3 linked regions of the Homo sapiens genome follow. The gene in region 1 interacts genetically with each later gene. Each region holds a gene or a part of one and is shown in the gene's direction. Other genes may lie near its edges.

Region 1 (7,127 bases):
TCGCTCTGTTGCCCAGGCTGGAGTGCAGTGGCGCAATCTCAGCTCACTGCAACCTCTGCCTCCTGGGTTCAAGCTATTCTCCTGCCTCAGCCTCCCGGGTTTAAGCTATTCTCCTGCCTCAGCCTCCCGAGTAGCTGGGACTACAGGCGTGTGCCACCACACCTGGCTAATTTTTTGCATTTTTAGTAGAGACGGGGTTTCACCGTGTTAGCCAGGAAGGTCTCGATCTCCTGACCTTGTGATCTGCCTGCCTCGGCCTCCCAAAGTGCTGGGATTACAGGTGTGAGCCACTGCATCCGGCCTGCCCCTACTACTTCTTAAGTCTTTCACCCACTCGTCTAAATGAAGAAGACAATGGGAAGCCATTGAAGGACTTTTAACCAGAAGGGTCACGATCACATCCACATTTTAGAGCTATTAGTTTGGCTACAATAAGGAGAAGAGATTGGAAATACATGTATTGGAGGCAGGAAAGCAGTTGGAAGGAAGACTGCTATAGTAATTGGAACCAAAGATGATAGTACTATAAGTGATTGATAGTGACAGTGAGGATGGAGAAGAAGGCAAGGATTTGAAAAAGAGGTAAGAGGTAGACTGAGCAAGACTTGGAGTCATATTCTGAGGATTAAAGATGACCTGAAGGTTTCTGACATGAGTGACTTTGATGCTTGATGACACCATTTCCCTAAAAAAGATTATAGAAGGAGAAGTTATTTGATGAATACATTCTGCTTGTCTTTTTTTATTTTTAAATAGTTTTTGGTTATCTTTAGTCAGTTTTCTCTGCCATGTCAAAAAGTATATTGTTAATCTACTTGCATTAATATTTTGTAGGCAAGAAGTAGTCCTGAACTACTGCCTTCTGGTGTGACTGATGAAAATGAGGTGACTACAGCTGTTACTGAAAAAGTTTGTTCTGAACTCGACAATAATAGACATTCAAAAGAGGTAAAAAATGATTTTATATTTACATTGGGGACTTGTAAGGGTGGAAGGACAGGAGGAGGTGAATTATCAGACATTACTTAATGGGTACAATATACATTATTCAGATGATAGATACATCAAAAGCCCCGACTTCACCTTTAGGCAATATAGCCATGTAACAAAATTCCACTTGTGCCCCTTGAATTTATACATATAAAATAAATAAATGTTCTTAATAGCTGGATGTGGTGGCAAGTGCCTGTAGTCCCAGCTACTCAGGAGGTGAAGTAGGTGGATTGCTTGAGCCTGAGTTGGAGGCACTAGGCAACATAGAGGGACCTAATCTCTAAAAATTAAATGATATTTTAAAAAAATGTCCTTATCACTGTTTTCCTCAGATGAATTATACACTATTTTAGGTGAAGGAAAGAGAAAAATATGTTAAGGTGAAGGAAAGAGAAAAATGTGTTAAAGGTGCTTTATGACTAGAGAGATATTTGTTACATTACCATCAGTTGATTTTCCTTTTGTTTTCAAGACCAAGTCTCACTCTGTCACCCAGCCTTGAGTGCAGTAGTGTGATCTTGGCTCACTGCAACCTCCACCTCCCAGGTTCAAGCAATTCTCCTGCCTCAGCCTCCTGAGTAGCTGCACATGCCCAGCTAATTTTTGTGTTTTTGGTAGAGACGGGGTTTCACCATTTTGGCCAGGATGGTCTCTATCTCTTGACCTTGTGATCTGCCCACGTCAGCCTCCCAAAGTGCTGGGATTACAGGTGTGAGCCACCGTGCCTGGCCCATCAGTTGATTTTTCAAAGCATGTGTATGACCTGAATGTGTGTTATTTTATTTTAAAATGTTACCTTTTAAAACTTTGGTTTCTAAAAAATAATTTTAATTTAAAATTATTTTTAGGAAGATCCATTTAATGTAGACTCAAGTTCGCTGACAGGTCCAGTTGCAGATACAAACTTGGATTTTTTCCAGTCTGATCCTTTTGTTGGCAGTAAGTACTCTTTTTTTTATATTATAGATTTACCCAAAAAAAAGACTTTTTAATATATAAACTAAGGATTCAAGGCTTCAGTTTCAATAGCCTACCAACTCAGTCTGTCGCCCAGGCTGGAGTGCAGTGGCACGATCTCGGCTCACTGCAACCTCCGCCTCCTGGGTTCAAGCGATTCTCCTGTCTCAGCCTCTTGAGTAGCTGAGACTACAGGCGCCCACCACCACACCCAGCTAATTTTATGTATGTATGTATGTATGTATGTGTGTATTTATTTATTTATGTAATTAATTTATTTAGAAATGGAGTCTCGCTCTGTCGCCAGGCTGGAGTGCAGTGGCACAATCTCGGCTCACTGCAACTTCTGCCTCCCGGATTCAAGCTAATCTCCTGCCTCAGCCTCCTGAGTAGTTGGGATTGCAGGTGCCTGCCACCACACCCAGCTAACTTTTGTGTTTTTAGTAGAGGCGGGGTTTCACCATGTTGGCCAGGATGGTCTCCATCTCTTGACCTCGTGATCCGCCCACGTTGGCCTCCCAAAGTGCTGGGATTACAGGCGTGAGCCACCGCGTCTGGCCTAATTTTTGTATTTTTAGTAGAGACTGGGTTTCACCATTTTGACCAGGCTGGTCTTGAACTCCTGATGTAAGGTGATCCGCCTGCCTCGGCCTTCTAAAGTGCTGGGATTACAGGTGTGAGCCACTGCGCCTGGCCTGCTTTGTATTTTCCTACTGACTAATGTTGAACATCTTTCTAGATGCTTATTAGCCATTTGTGTATCTTCTTTGGAAAAGTGTTTATTCAATTTTGGTGAAGTCCAGTTATCTATTTTTTCTTCTGTCACTTGTGCTTTTGGTGTCATCTAAGAAACTATTACCTAAGTCGCAAAGATTTAATGCTGTCTTTGTCTAAGAGTTTTATAGTTTTGCTGTTACAGTTAGATCTTTGATCCATTTTGAGTTTATTTTTGTATATGATGTGAGATAGAGGTCGAGCTTCATTCTTTTGCAAGTGGATATCCAGTTGTCCTAACACCATTTGTTGAAAAGACTGTCCTTTCTCCATTTTGTGTTCTTGATACGCTTGTCAAAAATCAAATGACCATAAAGGTAAGGATTTATTTCTGGACTCTTCAATCCTGTAAGAATTTTTTTTTTTTTGCTTCAGTAAAGCTCAGTACCTTTATTTCTGAACTGGTGATGATAATACCCTCCCAGTACTCTTGTGGAGAGTAGAGATTTTGTTAGTAAAATTTTTGCTGTAATGTCTTCCCCTCCATCCGTAACCTCAACTTGTGATCAAGGTAAGTATAGTTGGCTGTATATTTCATAAGGTCAATGACATTCCTTATTTTATCTACTGTGAAGTGAAGTTATTGAAATAAACTTTGCTTTGCTTTTGTTTGAAAGTTACTCTTTAAGTAGTGGTGTCACCACAGTAAATATTGTTATTTGGATTTCTTTGTGTTTATTTTATCACAGGTGATCCTTTCAAGGATGATCCTTTTGGAAAAATCGGTCAGTATCTTATTGAGTTTCATCTTAGCTTTCATTCATTTCTGCTTAATAATAAGCTTATGTTATTTAGGTCTGAAACTGAAGCCCCAGTAAGATGCTCTATGTGCCTGGCATTTTCAGAAAGAGAGTAGTAAATTCTTTTGATTTTGCTTAATGAATTGTTGCTTTACTTTTACTTCTTCTTTTTTTTTTTTTTTTTTTTTTTGGTGTTTTTTGTTTTTGAGACAGGGTCTTATTCTGTCACCCAGGCTGGAATGCAGTGGTGTGATCATGGCTCACTGCAGCCTTGACTTCCTGGGCTCAAGCAATCCTCCTGCCTCAGCCTCCTGAGTACCTAGGTCTACAGGCTCATGCCAGCATACTTGACTGATTTTTTTTTATTTTTTGTAGAGACAGGGTCTCACTGTGTTGCCGAGGTTGGTCTCGAACTCCTGGGCTCAAGCAGTCCTCCTGCCTCAGCCTCCCAAAGTGCTGCGATTACAGACAGGTGTGAGCGACTGTGCCCGATAGCTTTACTTTTTTAAAAATGACATTAGTGTTTAGACTTTGGTGCTTTAAATATTTATTCTGATTCCTCCTTACTAACTAAAGGTTTGGTGAGCATAATGATCTATACTGCTTCAGGGTTTAGAATGTAATTTTGTTTTCCTAAGATTATAGCCCACACGTGTGATTAGAGGCAGAGAATCTTGAAGAATTACTAAAACATCAGGCTTTTTGAGATATTCTTTTTCTGGGAATTTTCATTAGAATAATGCAAATCTTGTTTACCATTTAGTTTTGCATCCCAAACCTGTTCTAAACTATTGGCTGTTAGCTTTGAGCTCAGAGAGAAAAATACATTTAGAAGTTTTTATTGTGTTTTCTTTAGTTACGGTAGCGTAGAATAAGGGGACTTAAAATTGGATCCCTTGAAATTATATGTTAATTTTAAAAATAAGTTTATTAGGTGGAAGGTTCTGTATCTTTTATCAAAATTGCAAAGGAGTCTGTGAAATAAAAAGTACTCAGCTTAGATTCTACAGTATTTCAAACTGTCTTTTTGGATTTTTTTTTTGAGACAGTCTTGCTCTGTTGCCCAGGCTAGAGTACAAGTAGTGCGGTCTTGACTCACTGCAACCTCCGCCTCCCATGCTCAAGCTATTATTCTCATGCCTCAGCCTCCCGAATAGCCAGGATTACGGGCGCGCACCACCACGCCTGGCTAATTTTTGTATTTTTAGTAGAGACAGGGTTTCACTGTGTTAGCCAGGCCGGTCTTAAACTCCTGAGCTCAAGTCATCCGTCTACCTCAACCTCCCAAAGTGCTGGAATTACAGGTGTGAGCCACTGCACCTGGCCCAAACTGTCTTTTTGTTTGTTTGTTTTTGAGACAGGGTCTCACTGTCACCCAGGCTGGAGTGCAGTGGCAGATCTTTGCTCACTGCAGCCTCTGCCTCACAGGTTCAAGTGAGTCTCCCACCTCAGCCTCCCGAGTAGCTGGGACTATAGGTGCGCACCACCATGCCTGGCTAATTTTTGTGTTTTTTAGTAGAGAGGAGGTTTTGACATGTTGGGCAGGCTGGTCTTGAACTCCTGACCTCAAGTGATCTGCCTGTCTCAGCCTCCCAAAGTGGTGGGAATGCAGACGTGAGCCACTGCACCTGGCCCCAGACTGTCTTTTAATTAAGGCACTGATCATACCTTCAAGTGATGGGAAATTTAGTGCAATAATTTTTTTTTGTCTCTTATATTCGTGCCTTATTTTTTTAGATCCATTTGGTGGTGATCCTTTCAAAGGTTCAGATCCATTTGCATCAGACTGTTTCTTCAGGCAATCTACTGATCCTTTTGCCACTTCAAGCACTGACCCTTTCAGTGCAGCCAACAATAGCAGTATTACATCGGTAAGTGGGAGAATTAAAAACTGTTAAGTTAAATGGATAATAAGTGTCCTAAGCAAGTTTCTTGAAATACATAGTGATGAAAGAACCCTCATTTAGATTACTTCTAATGGACCATATAAGAATTTCAGTCTCATCCCAATTCATTTAGTTTTTGGTTCAGACTGGTATTTCATAGTTTGATTACCCACTGGAATTAACTGGAATGACTGAACGGAGTCCAAAAGTGATGTTCATCTTTCAAGAGACTAAATCTTATCCTATTGAGGATACTAAAAATGATTGGAAATTTATAAGCCAATCTTACATAAAACTTTTCTGAAATGTTTGGTATATTATTGAAATAATGAAAATTAAAAGAATTTTAGAAAAATAAAATCGTTTATGTTATTTCATAGACACATCTGGAATGTTAATTCTGCAAAGTACAAATTCTCACTAAATGTCAAGCTCTCTTGAGAATGTACATACCTACAGCAATCACTGTTTAATAACCACATGCCTGATCCAGGTACTGGTGTGTGCTTTACATTCATTGTTTCTAATCTTCACATCAATTTTGCAAAGTAGGTGTTGATATCCCTATTTTAAAAATGAGGACACTGGGACTTAGAAAAATTAACATGTTTAAGGTCCTATAGCTAGTTGCTGTTTTATCTGGAGGCTTTAAAAAAATCTTCATGGCTGGGCGCGGTGGCTCACGCCTGTAATCCCAGCACTTTGGGAGGCTGAGGTGGGCGGATCACGAGGTCAGGAGATCGAGACCATCCTGGCTAACACGGTGAAAACTCGTCTCTACTAAAAATACAAAAAATTAGCCAGGCGCGGTGGTGGGTGCCTATAGTCCCAGCTACTCAGGAGGCTGAGGCAGGAGAATGGCGTGAACCCGGGAGGCGGAGCTTGCAGTGAGCCGAGATCGCGCCACTGCACTCCAGCCTGGGTGACAGAGCGAGACTCCGTCTCAAAAAAAAAAAAAAAAATCTTCATCTTGTGGATATTTAGAAATACTCAAAGGAGAATAATGTAATGAAATATTTTAACAAGCTTCCATGCATCCATTACCCAATTTCAATAGTTAGGAATGGTTTTGCAGGTTTTTGGTTTTGCTTTTTAATTTGTATTTTGAGACTTCGTTTTTGAGACCACAGTTTCATGTCTGTAGGTAAACTGAACCTATAAAGGACCAGTTAACTGAGAAGCATTTGAAGCAAAAAATTTGTCTTCTAGTACTATTAGATTAAGAATATTTCCTTTAAAATGTAATTGATTATTTTAAAGATAATAGGTTTTGTATTATTGAAAGTTGCTTCTTTTTTGTATTCAGTAAAGAGCTGCTTGGCTAAGAACTGGTGTTTTCCATTGAATAAAAACTGGACAGATACCTTCGTGACTGAATATTTTTCGTTTCCCTGGGCTGCTGGATACTCTGTTTTCCTATAGCACTTAGTTTGCAATGTGGACCCATTTGCCAAATTCTTCTAAAATTGCTGCTACTGGAATTCTTCTCCTCTCACCTTCTTATTCTAGCCTCTCATTCTCCTATCATCTAAAGAGCAAGAAAGCTAAATTAGCTCTTCTAATTTAAAAATGAATACATTCCTCTTGTCCTGTCCCCCATGAGATTTTTCTACCATTTGTTTTACTGACTTTTATTCCCAGTTTTCTAAAGGAATATTGTCCTTGCTTTACAGCTTGTAATTTCACCATTCAAAACAAAAAACCAGATTGGCAATATAATAATAGCTGCAGTTTATCTAATTTCCTCTGTGTGCCAGGGATGGTGCCAAGCTCTTTA
Region 2 (2,689 bases), on another chromosome or scaffold:
CAAGGCTTACACTGAATTCTGTCTGCAGTTCTGTTTTGTGTGACCAGCACAGTGTTTTAAAACGTTGCATTCTGAATCCATCTTTTTGAAATGGGGCATGTACTCTTAAGGTGGCCACTAGCTTACCATTCCCAATTTTTCTTAGTCTCAAACATTCACATGTTTTTCAAGGCCTTGGAGTTGGCAAATCCTGAATATATAGTGAAGGTAGGAAATAGCTCTTCTTATGCCACATCTTAGTCTGATTTTGAAGTCAGTTGTGTAAGTTTGGGCTGACAGTGGTATTTTCCAGTGAAGACTATCGCCAAGAATGCATATCATTCTGCTTATTTTATTCTAGTGGATAAAAATTCAACGTATATTTAAGTGTATTTTTGACATCTGTGCTTGTCCAACACAGGGCTGTAGGGACTGATGAAAAGAGAATGTTGTGATTTGAGCTTTTATAAAAAAAGATAAGTGATCCTAGATAAAATATTTTAGATGGTGATTAAAATGCCCATAGATTAATTTTTTAATCGGTTCTCTGAAATCTTGAGATGTTATCCAAGTTACAATTTAAGCAATGAGAGTAAAATTTGAATTCTAAATTCTCAGCATCTTCCCTCATTCTTGAGTGGAGAGACAGAGGAAGCAAACGCCAAGGAGCCTTCTAATTTTGACTATATGATCATTAACTAAAGGCAGCAAGGGATTGTAAACTAATCTTACATAGTCAATGTTTCATAGAATGCTTTGGTTACAATCAGGTTTTTTAAAGACTTTAAAGGTTTTTTGTATGCTATAATATATGCTTATGATTTCTAAAAATTATGCAGTATACACAAAGGGCATAAAGTCAAAAAGTGTGTCTCCCTCTGTGACTTTATTCTCATACCCCAGAGGCATATAATTTCTTGTATTCTTGTGTAGTCTTTAAGAAATGTTATCGTTTATTTTATATATGGCTCTCTCTCTGTATGCCTCTTCCTGTTCTTATTTTAAATGTTCAAGTTTGTGACTTGGTTCTTGTTTAACTTGGTTGTCTTTCCATATTGCCACCTTCCAGCTCTAACATTAATGTCTCCAGGATTCCATTATATGGATGTCCCTTTGGGAGAACATTTGTTTATAGACTTTTCTACTAAAAATATTGTTATAATGATAATATCCTTATGCATATATGAAGATTACTCTTGATTCTGCCTGACTGGAAACTTTATTAATAAAGTAGACATTATTCTATTTTGAGGCTCACCAGCTGTGTAGGTATGATCTTGTGCTTCCATTTAAGAAATTCTTCCATTTAAAGAAGAAAAAAAATCTCTCTGACTATCTGAAGATATATGAAAAAGCCTATGCTTTTAAATTAAACTGTTAAGACAGTCCATTGAAAGATTGTGGAAGTTCACATCTATTTTGCACCTTAATTTTTTCATTGTCCCTACTCATGACTCTAAAAAGTGCATGGCTTGGGGCTATACTTTGTTTTGCAGTTTGTTGGTATCGTGCCTTTCCTTATCTACATTAGCTTAGACTATACCTTATTTTTAAGAAGAGAAAGTGGAAATTAACTGTGGCAAAACCTATTTTGGCACAACCACATTTGTTCATTATACAAAATTAGCTTCCTATGCTTTAGAAAAAATGTGAGTTATTACTCTGAAAGTTGTGATTCTGATTCCTCATGGTTTGGAGCTCAGAAATTTCTTAACATGTCTTTGCTGTTAGTCAAGCACAGGATTTGTTTTCTGCAAAAGTTTATTTTCAATGAAGAATACTTGTCCTAATAGCTCATAAAAAGTACCTTTGCACTTTAAATCCTAGGAATAGGGAACAAGGAAACTTACTGGGAAGTTCAAAAGAAAGAATAACAGGACCTTCTAGTCAGCAGGGCATGTTTGGAAAATGTTAATACGCCATGATTTTTGAAGACCAATTTTAGTTCAGGAGGTGGTTTTAAATATTGGATGAAAACTTACAGGCTGTTTTCAATATTCATTTCTGAAATACTTTAGTATGATAGATAAATTTGGTTAAGTTCTTGTTCATTGTGAAATACTGTTGGAAGAATTTTTTTCAAAATAAAGACTTCTGAATTTGTGTACCATTTGGGAATAGCCTCTTTCATTTAAATGAGTGTCAAATCTGGAAAATTGGAAGAATATTTGTTCCTTTCATCACTCACATTATGCATTTCTGTAAAGCAGCTCATGCATTTACTTCCAGCTTAACGTGTTTTCCATTAATTAATAAGTTTTGCCATTTTTTTCTGTATTTTTCAATTAAAAAGTCTTCATTTTTAAAAAGCAGGATCTATTTGTTACTTAATTTGCAATATTTTTTTTTCAAAGATGGATTTTTTTTTTTCTGGAGTACACATTGATGGAAGTTGGTTTTAAGAAAGCATTGTAATGGGAATTTACCTACCTTACTACTGTTGAAGTTTAGAAGGTAAATGCTGAACTGTGTTTGTCACATCCCTAATCTTATTTCTCTGTAGTGGTCACTGACTATTATTTGTTATGAGTCCATCTTGATTATTCTGTACATCTTGTTTAAATTATTTTCACTAACCATCACCAGAACACAGAAGAAAATTTTGTTTCCTTAGAATCAATGAGTATTTCCACCACCTGAGGGTGGGGGACAAGGAGGAGAGAACTAATGTTTGTTTTAGCCTCTTTAATGAGAAACTATTCAAATTATT
Region 3 (7,243 bases), on another chromosome or scaffold:
CTGGAGAAAAGGAACAAAGTACACATTGGGTGCCTAGGGTTTACTTCTGGGCCTGCTTCTAGTCTCTCTCTACATGCTGTACCTAAGCAACCAGTCCCATGGCTCTAAGCGATGACTCCTAAACCTACATTTCCAGCTCTGGCCTGGCCTGGAAATCCAGTCTATACATATCCACCTGCCTGCTTATCAGCCCACTGGATGCCTCACAAGGATCTCAAATCAACATGTCCAAAACCAAGCTACTGATTTCTGCCTATCAGCACCCCCTAACCCAGCAGTCCCCAACCGTTTTGGCACCACGGACCAGGAAGATAATTTTTCCACTAACCGGCGGGTGGGAGTTGGGGGATGATTTTGGGATGATCTGAGCACATTAAGTTTATTGTGCACTTTTTTTTTTTTAAACGGAGTCTCGCTCTGTCACCAGGCTGGAGTGCAGTGGCACGATCTTGGCTCACTGCAACCTCCACCTCCTGGGTTCAAGCGATTCTCCTGCCTCAGCCTCCCAAGTAGCTGGGATTACAGGCACGTGCCACCATGGCCAGCTAAGTTTTGTATTTTTAGTAGAGACGAGGTTTCACCATGTTGGCCAGGATGGTCTCGATTTCCTGACCTCGTGATCTGCCTACCTCAGCTCCCAAAGTGCTGGGATTAGAGGCGTGAGCCACCGCGCCTGGCCTGTGCACTTTATTTCTATTATTATTACATTGTAATGTATAACAAAATAATTATACAACTCACCATCATGTGGAATTAGTGGGAGCCCTGAGCTTGTTTTCTCGCAACTAGACGGTCCCATCTGGGGGTGATGGGAGACAGTGACAGGTCATCAAGCATTAGATTCTTATAAGGAGTGCATGACCTAGATCCCTTGCATGCGCAGTTTACAATAGGGTTCGTGCTCCTATGAGAATCTAATGCTGTTGCGGATCTGAGAGGAGGCAGAGCTCAGGCGGTAATGGGAGCAATGGGTAGTGGCTGTAAATACAGATGCAGCTTTGCTCATTTGCCCACCACTTACTTCCTGCTGCGTGGCCTGGTTCCTAACAGGCCACAGACAGGTACTGGTCCATGGCCCAGTAGGTTAGGCCCTGCCCTAACCTACTCCTCCTTTAGTCTCCCCTTTTCCTTTCCTTTTCTTTTTCTTTCCTTCTTCTTTCTTTCTTTCTTTTTTTTTTTTTGAGACAGTCTCGCTCTGTCACCCAGGGTGGAGTGCAATGGCGCGATCTCAGCTCACTGCAACCTCCACCTCCCACGTTCAAGCAATTCTCCTGACTCAGCCTTCCAAGTAGCTGGGATTACAGGTGCCTGCCACCATGCCTGGCTAATTTTTGTATTTTTAGTAGATTAAAGGGTTTCACTATGTTGGCCAGGCTTTTCTCGAACTCCTGACCTCGTGATCCGCCTGCCTCGGCCTCCCAAAATGCTGGGATTACAGGCATAAGCCACCACGCCCAGCCCATTTTAATTTAATTTAAACTTAAATAGCCACATATGATTAGTGGCTGCCGTATTGAAGAGAGTAGCTCTAGATTTTTGCTTTGGGCAACTAGGTGGCTCATGGTGCCATTAATTGAAAAATGGGGCCGGGTGCGGTGGCTCACACCTATAATCCCAGCACTTTGAGAGGCCAAAGCGGGCAGATGACCTGAACTCAGGTGTTCGAGACCAGCCTGGCCAACATGCTAAAAATACAAAAAATTAGCTGGGCATGGTGGCATGCACCTGTAGTCCCAGCTACTCGGGAGGCTGAGGTGGGAGGAGCACTCAAGCCCCAGGAAGTGGAGGTTGCAGTGAGCCAAGATTGTGCCACTGCACTCCAGCCTGGGTGACAGAGTAAGACCCTGTCTCAAAAAGAAAAAAACAAGAGAGAGAGAGAGAAAGCAGGCTGCCAGCCACCAGCCTGGACAACATAGTGAGACCCCTTCTCTACAAAAAATCAAAAATTAGCCAGGCATGGTGGTGTGCGCCTGTAGTCTCAGCTACCCTGGAGACTGAGGTGGGAGGATCACTTGAACTGGGGAGGTTGAGGCTGCAGTGAGGTATGATTGTGCCACTGCCCTCCAACCTGGGCAGCAGAGCAAGACCTTGTCTCAAAAAAAAAAAAAAAAACAAAAAAAACAAAACAAAACAAAAAGAGGCCGGGTGCGGTGACTCACGTCTGTAATCCTAGCACTTTGGGAGGCCAAGGTGGGTGGATCATTTGAAGTCAGGACTTCAAGACCAGCCTGGCCAATATGGTGAAACCCCATCTCTACTAAAAATACAAAAATTAGCTGGACATGGTGGCACGCACCTGTAATCCCAACTACTTGGGAGGCTGAGGCAGGAGAATCGCTTGAACCTGGGAGATGGAGGCTGAGGTGGGCGGATCACTTGAGCCCAGGAGGTCCAGACCAGCCTGGGCAATATAGTGAGACCCAATCTCTACAAAAAATTTTTAAAAATTCGCCAGGCATGGTGGTGCACAGCTGTACTCCCAGCTACTTGGAAGGCTGAGGTGGAAGGATCACTTGAGTCCAGAAGGTTGAGGCTGCAGTGAGCCATGATTGTGTCACTGCACTCCAGCCTGGGTGATAAAGCGAGACCCTGTCTCAAAAAAAAAGTAATTGTTTTAAAAATGGTGACCAACCCAATCTGAAGTACCCAACAGGTGGCCAGGCATTGTGGCTCATGCTTGTAATCCCAGCACTTTGGGACGCCAAGGCGGGAGGCTCACTTGAGGCCATGAGTTTGAGACCAGCCTGGCCAACATGGTGAAATCCTGTCTCTACTAAAAATACAAAAATTGGCCGGGCGCGGTGGCTCACGCCTGTAATCCCAGCACTTTGGGAGGCCAAGACCGGCGGATCACGAGGTCAGAAGATCGAGACCATCCTTGCTAACACGGTGAAACCCCGTCTCCACTGAAAATACAAAAAAATTAGCCAGGCGTGGTGGCGGGTGCCTGTAGTCCCAGCTACTCGGGAGGCTGAGGCAGGAGAATGGCGTGAACCCAGAAGGCGAAGCTTGCAGTGAGCCGAGATCGTGCCACTGCACTCCAGCCTGGGCGACAGAGCGAGACTCCATCTCAAATAATAATAATCATAATAATAAAAATACAAAAATTATCTGGGGGTGGTGGTGGCCGCCTGTAATCCCAGCTACTCAGGAGACTGAGGCATGAGAATTGCTTAAACCCAGGAGGCAGAGGTTGCAGTGAGCTGACATCGTGCCACTGCACTCCAGTCTGGGCAACAGAGTGAGACTCCATCTCAAAAAATTAAAATTAAATTAAAAAATTAAAAAAGTACCCAAAAAGTCTTTTCCAAGATGTGATTTTAATTCTCTGCGTAGGATTTATTACTAACTGGTGATTCTTTAATTTGTGTATTGTTTGCTTCCCCCTACTAGAAACTAAGCTCTATAAGAATATTTTGTTTGATTGCTTCGCTGCTGTATTCTATTCCCAGTGTCTAGAACGTGCCTGAAACCTAGCAGACACTCAGTGTTTGTTAAATGAATAATCGAATAATAGTCCACCTACTAGGAGGGTTAAAGGCAGGGTTTCTAAAGTTGGAAGACCCAGAGTGGAATCCTGGGCCACGCACTCGTGTGATCTGCCGCAAGTTGTTGAACCTAAGGGTGTAAAATGGGGATTCCACCTCTGGGATAGGCGGAGCGAATGAAATGACATTTATAAAGCACTCCCTTCGCTCTGTGGCTCAGGAATTAGAGCACTGGTCTAGTAAAGCACTCTTGCTCCCTCTCCCTCTCTCCCTTAAGCGCTCTCTTCTTTCCCCCTCCTGCTCAGCCCCTCACATGGCCACTTCTCTTCGGCTTTGCATGACACTCTACACAGTCTAGAGTAAGCCTTTGAAATTTGCCGGGAATTAACGTCATCAGTCGGGAGGACGACAGCTACGCACGCGCGGGGCACCTCCTCTGTCTCGCGCGCTAACTTTGCAGCCCCGCCAGCCAATCAAAATTAGCGTCGGAGCCCGAGTGCCGAGGACTCACCAATCGGAACTAGGAGGCGGGCCACGGTGGAGGCAGCGGCGAGAGGGGGCGGGGACAAGGAGAGGGCACGCACGGTTCTCGCTGCTGGGGTCTCTGCCGGCCAATAGGAGAGGCCTGAGGCCTGAAGGCGGTGGGGCGGGGCATTGGCGGCTCCAGCAACCGGAGGCCGTCCCAGGGAGGGCCAATCGGAGTAAGGAGGTGGGAGAAACCTAGCCAATCAGTGTGCAGGACGGGCAAGGAGGGTGGTGGACGGCGAAGTCTCCTGCGGATGCCGCCCGCTCCCGAGCTTCTGTCAGGGGAGCCGGGCGTGCGGAGGCGGCTGAGGAGGCGGGAAGGCGGCAGTGGTTGAAGGGGTGATTGCTGACTAGCGGGGAGGGAGTGGGCAGCGATGGTGATGGCGGCGAAGAAGGGCCCGGGCCCGGGCGGCGGGGTCAGCGGGGGCAAGGCGGAGGCGGAGGCGGCCTCGGAGGTGTGGTGCCGTCGGGTGCGGGAGCTGGGTGGCTGCAGCCAGGCCGGGAACCGCCACTGCTTCGAGTGCGCCCAGCGCGGGGTCACCTACGTGGATATCACCGTGGGCAGCTTCGTGTGCACCACCTGCTCCGGCCTCCTGTGAGTGACCGGGAGGGAGTGGCCGAGGTCGGCGTGGGGGGACCCGGGGGCGGGGTGGGGAGGCCGGGGCTCCGGGGCGCGAGGGAAGGGGGCCGAGGTGAGGGGCGGAGGGGAGGTCAGGGAACGCGCCGGCTGTGGGGACGGGGTCGTCTGCTGCAGCGGTGTGGTGGGGAGGGGAAAGGGCAGGGGAGAGGAAGCAAGGCCGGAGTCGCTCTGCGGAGAGAAGGGTACGGGTGCAGAAAGACGCCCGGAGAGGGACCGAGAAACTCCCCGAGGGGGTCGAGGCAAACTGCAAGTGGGGAGGGAGAAAGTGCGGAGGATGGAAGGGAACTCGGAGTGGGATGGGGTGTCGGGACTTAAAGGGCCAGAAAATGACATGCACCTTTAGAGGGAACTTCATGCAGGTGGAAAGCAAAAAGGAAAAAGGTGGGGAAAGCCGGCCTGGAGATGGACGGGCACCTTTCTTCCTTCGGGCTTGTGTCCCTGCTGGAGTGTGAGATGCAGAAGCCAGCTGAAACTTGGTTGAAATTCCTATGATTAGAGTACAGGATTAAAAAAAAAAAAAAAAGCGAATTAACCCCGATTGACAGCCTAGAGATAGTGGCTGGAAGGGAGCCATGGTCCAGAGTTCAGGTGTAGATACTAATCTTAGCAGGGCTTTGAAATGTTACCCAGAAGGTAAAACTCTTACGAAATCTAAGAGATGAGAGCCAATGGGTTACCCTGGTAGAGAGCTTAGCTTTTTCAAACGTTTGCACGTCTAGGTGAGCCATCCTGAAGGTTAATCATTTACACCTTTAAGATCCCTGTTGCCATGACTGGATCCTGGTGGTAGCATCCAGGAAACTCTAGATTTTGGGGGGGCTTTGGTGCATCATCTGAGTGCTACTCTTGGCATTGGTACTGTTCGGTCATGCCAGAGTGAATTTACAGCCACAATTCTAGCCTAGATTTCTGGTTATATAGTAAAGCCCCCTCCACTCCCCTCTGCACTCCTCCTACTCCCAAATTAAGATATTATTTGGTTAGATGCATGATTAACATCTGATATCAGGCCTGGATCTCTGTTTTTTAATAAGTTTGTCAAGGGATTTATTTTGACAATTTTTTAGTCTTATTTTAAGACACTGTTGTTTTTGTTTTGTTTTTTAAAAAATGCTTTCCAGCCAGGCGCTGTGGCTCACGCCTGTAATCCTAGCACTTTGGGAGGCCGAGGCAGGCAGATCATGAGGTCAAGAGATCGAGACCATCCTGGCCAACATGGTGAAACCCCATCTCTACTAAAAATACAAAAATTACCTGGGTGTGGTGGCGCGCACCTGTACTCCCAGCTACTTGGGAGGCTGAGGCAGGAGAATCACTTGAACCCGGGAGGTGGAGGTTGCAGTGAGCTGAGATTGCGCCACTGCACTTCAGCCTGGCGACAGAGCAAGACACTGTCTCAAAAAAAAAAAAAAAAAAAAAAGCTTTCCCTGTCTTGATACCTTTAGGAGCCAGGGAGCGAGCACTATTGTTCTTGCAAGACAGATGGGAGAACAGAAGCAAAGAGAGGTTTCGTAACTTATCCAGTGCCATATGGGCATTGCGGTTTCCAACATTTGTTGTTTGATATTAGTGATGATCATGGCAGACCAGCAATGAGGATTTAGTTTTCTCAAGATACCGTTTGGAATTATTTACTTCGTTTTAACCTCCTTTGCTAAACTTCTCTCTGGGTTCTGATCAACCTCACTTGTGGGTTGTAAGGATGAACTTGACTTTGGTCTAAGTAAAAGTCATCGTGGCTCTTGGGATAATGATTGAGAACCCAAACAGTAATGTGTCATAAACTGAGATGGACTGAAATGAAGCAAGAGGATAGAGACTCGAGAGTGGGTGAAGAACTCTGGGGAGAGATTGAGCAACGTTTAGGAGTATGTATAGGGGTCGGGCTCGGTGGCTCAGTATGTATAGGAGGCCAAGGTGAGCAGATCACTTGAGGTCAGGAGTTTCGAGACCAGCCTGGCCAACATGGCGAAATCTCATCTCTTACTAAAAATACAAAAATTAGCCAGGCATGGTGGCAGGTGCCTGTAATCCCAGCTACTTAGGAGGCTGAGGCAAGAGAATTGCTTGAACCCAAGAGGTGGAGGTTGCAATGAGCCGAGATCGCACCACTGCACTCTCCAGTCTGGGTCGCAGAGCGAGACTCTGTCTCACAAAAAAAAAAAAAAAAGGAGTATGTATAGGGTAAAGTAGAAAGAGAAAGAGCTGATTCCTGAAGATCCTGCTATGAGAAGCAGAAGGATGAAACTGATGGATAAAATTGAGTAACTGGGAAGTGCTGACATTGTTATCATTATTTTGTAGATCTTTGTTAAAGTGTCCCACAGATAACATTTCCCTTATAATACCCCTCAATCAGGACACAAAGAAAGCTAAGGTATCTGGGACACGTTAAAAACCTGGTTTCTTTTTTCTTTTTTTGAGATGGAGTCTCACTCTGTTGCTTAGGCTGGAGTGCAATGGCGCGATCTCGGCTCATTGCAACCCCTGCCTCCTGGGTTTAAGCAATTCTCTTGCCTCAGCCTCCTGAGTAGCTGAGACTACAGGCACGCGCTACCACATCTGGCTAATGTTTGTATTTTTAGTAGAG

What was found.
Region 2: of EPS15 (region 1) and AGFG1, changing one enhances a phenotype caused by changing the other (phenotypic enhancement), as found in Homo sapiens cells (one study listed by BioGRID).
Region 3: of EPS15 (region 1) and AGFG2, changing one enhances a phenotype caused by changing the other (phenotypic enhancement), as found in Homo sapiens cells (one study listed by BioGRID).

What each region holds. Positions count from the first base shown.
Region 1 is NC_000001.11:51,397,240-51,404,366, reverse strand, and holds part of EPS15 (epidermal growth factor receptor substrate 15), read left to right. Parts: intron 1-834; coding exon 835-948; intron 949-1,841; coding exon 1,842-1,932; intron 1,933-3,413; coding exon 3,414-3,449; intron 3,450-5,201; coding exon 5,202-5,335; intron 5,336-7,127. UniProt on the Homo sapiens protein: Involved in cell growth regulation. May be involved in the regulation of mitogenic signals and control of cell proliferation. Involved in the internalization of ligand-inducible receptors of the receptor tyrosine kinase (RTK) type, in particular EGFR.
Region 2 is NC_000002.12:227,559,129-227,561,817, forward strand, and holds the end of AGFG1 (arf-GAP domain and FG repeat-containing protein 1), read left to right. Parts: 3' UTR 1-2,089; downstream 2,090-2,689. UniProt on the Homo sapiens protein: Required for vesicle docking or fusion during acrosome biogenesis. May play a role in RNA trafficking or localization.
Region 3 is NC_000007.14:100,534,960-100,542,202, forward strand, and holds the start of AGFG2 (arf-GAP domain and FG repeat-containing protein 2), read left to right. Parts: upstream 1-4,243; 5' UTR 4,244-4,387; coding exon 4,388-4,608; intron 4,609-7,243.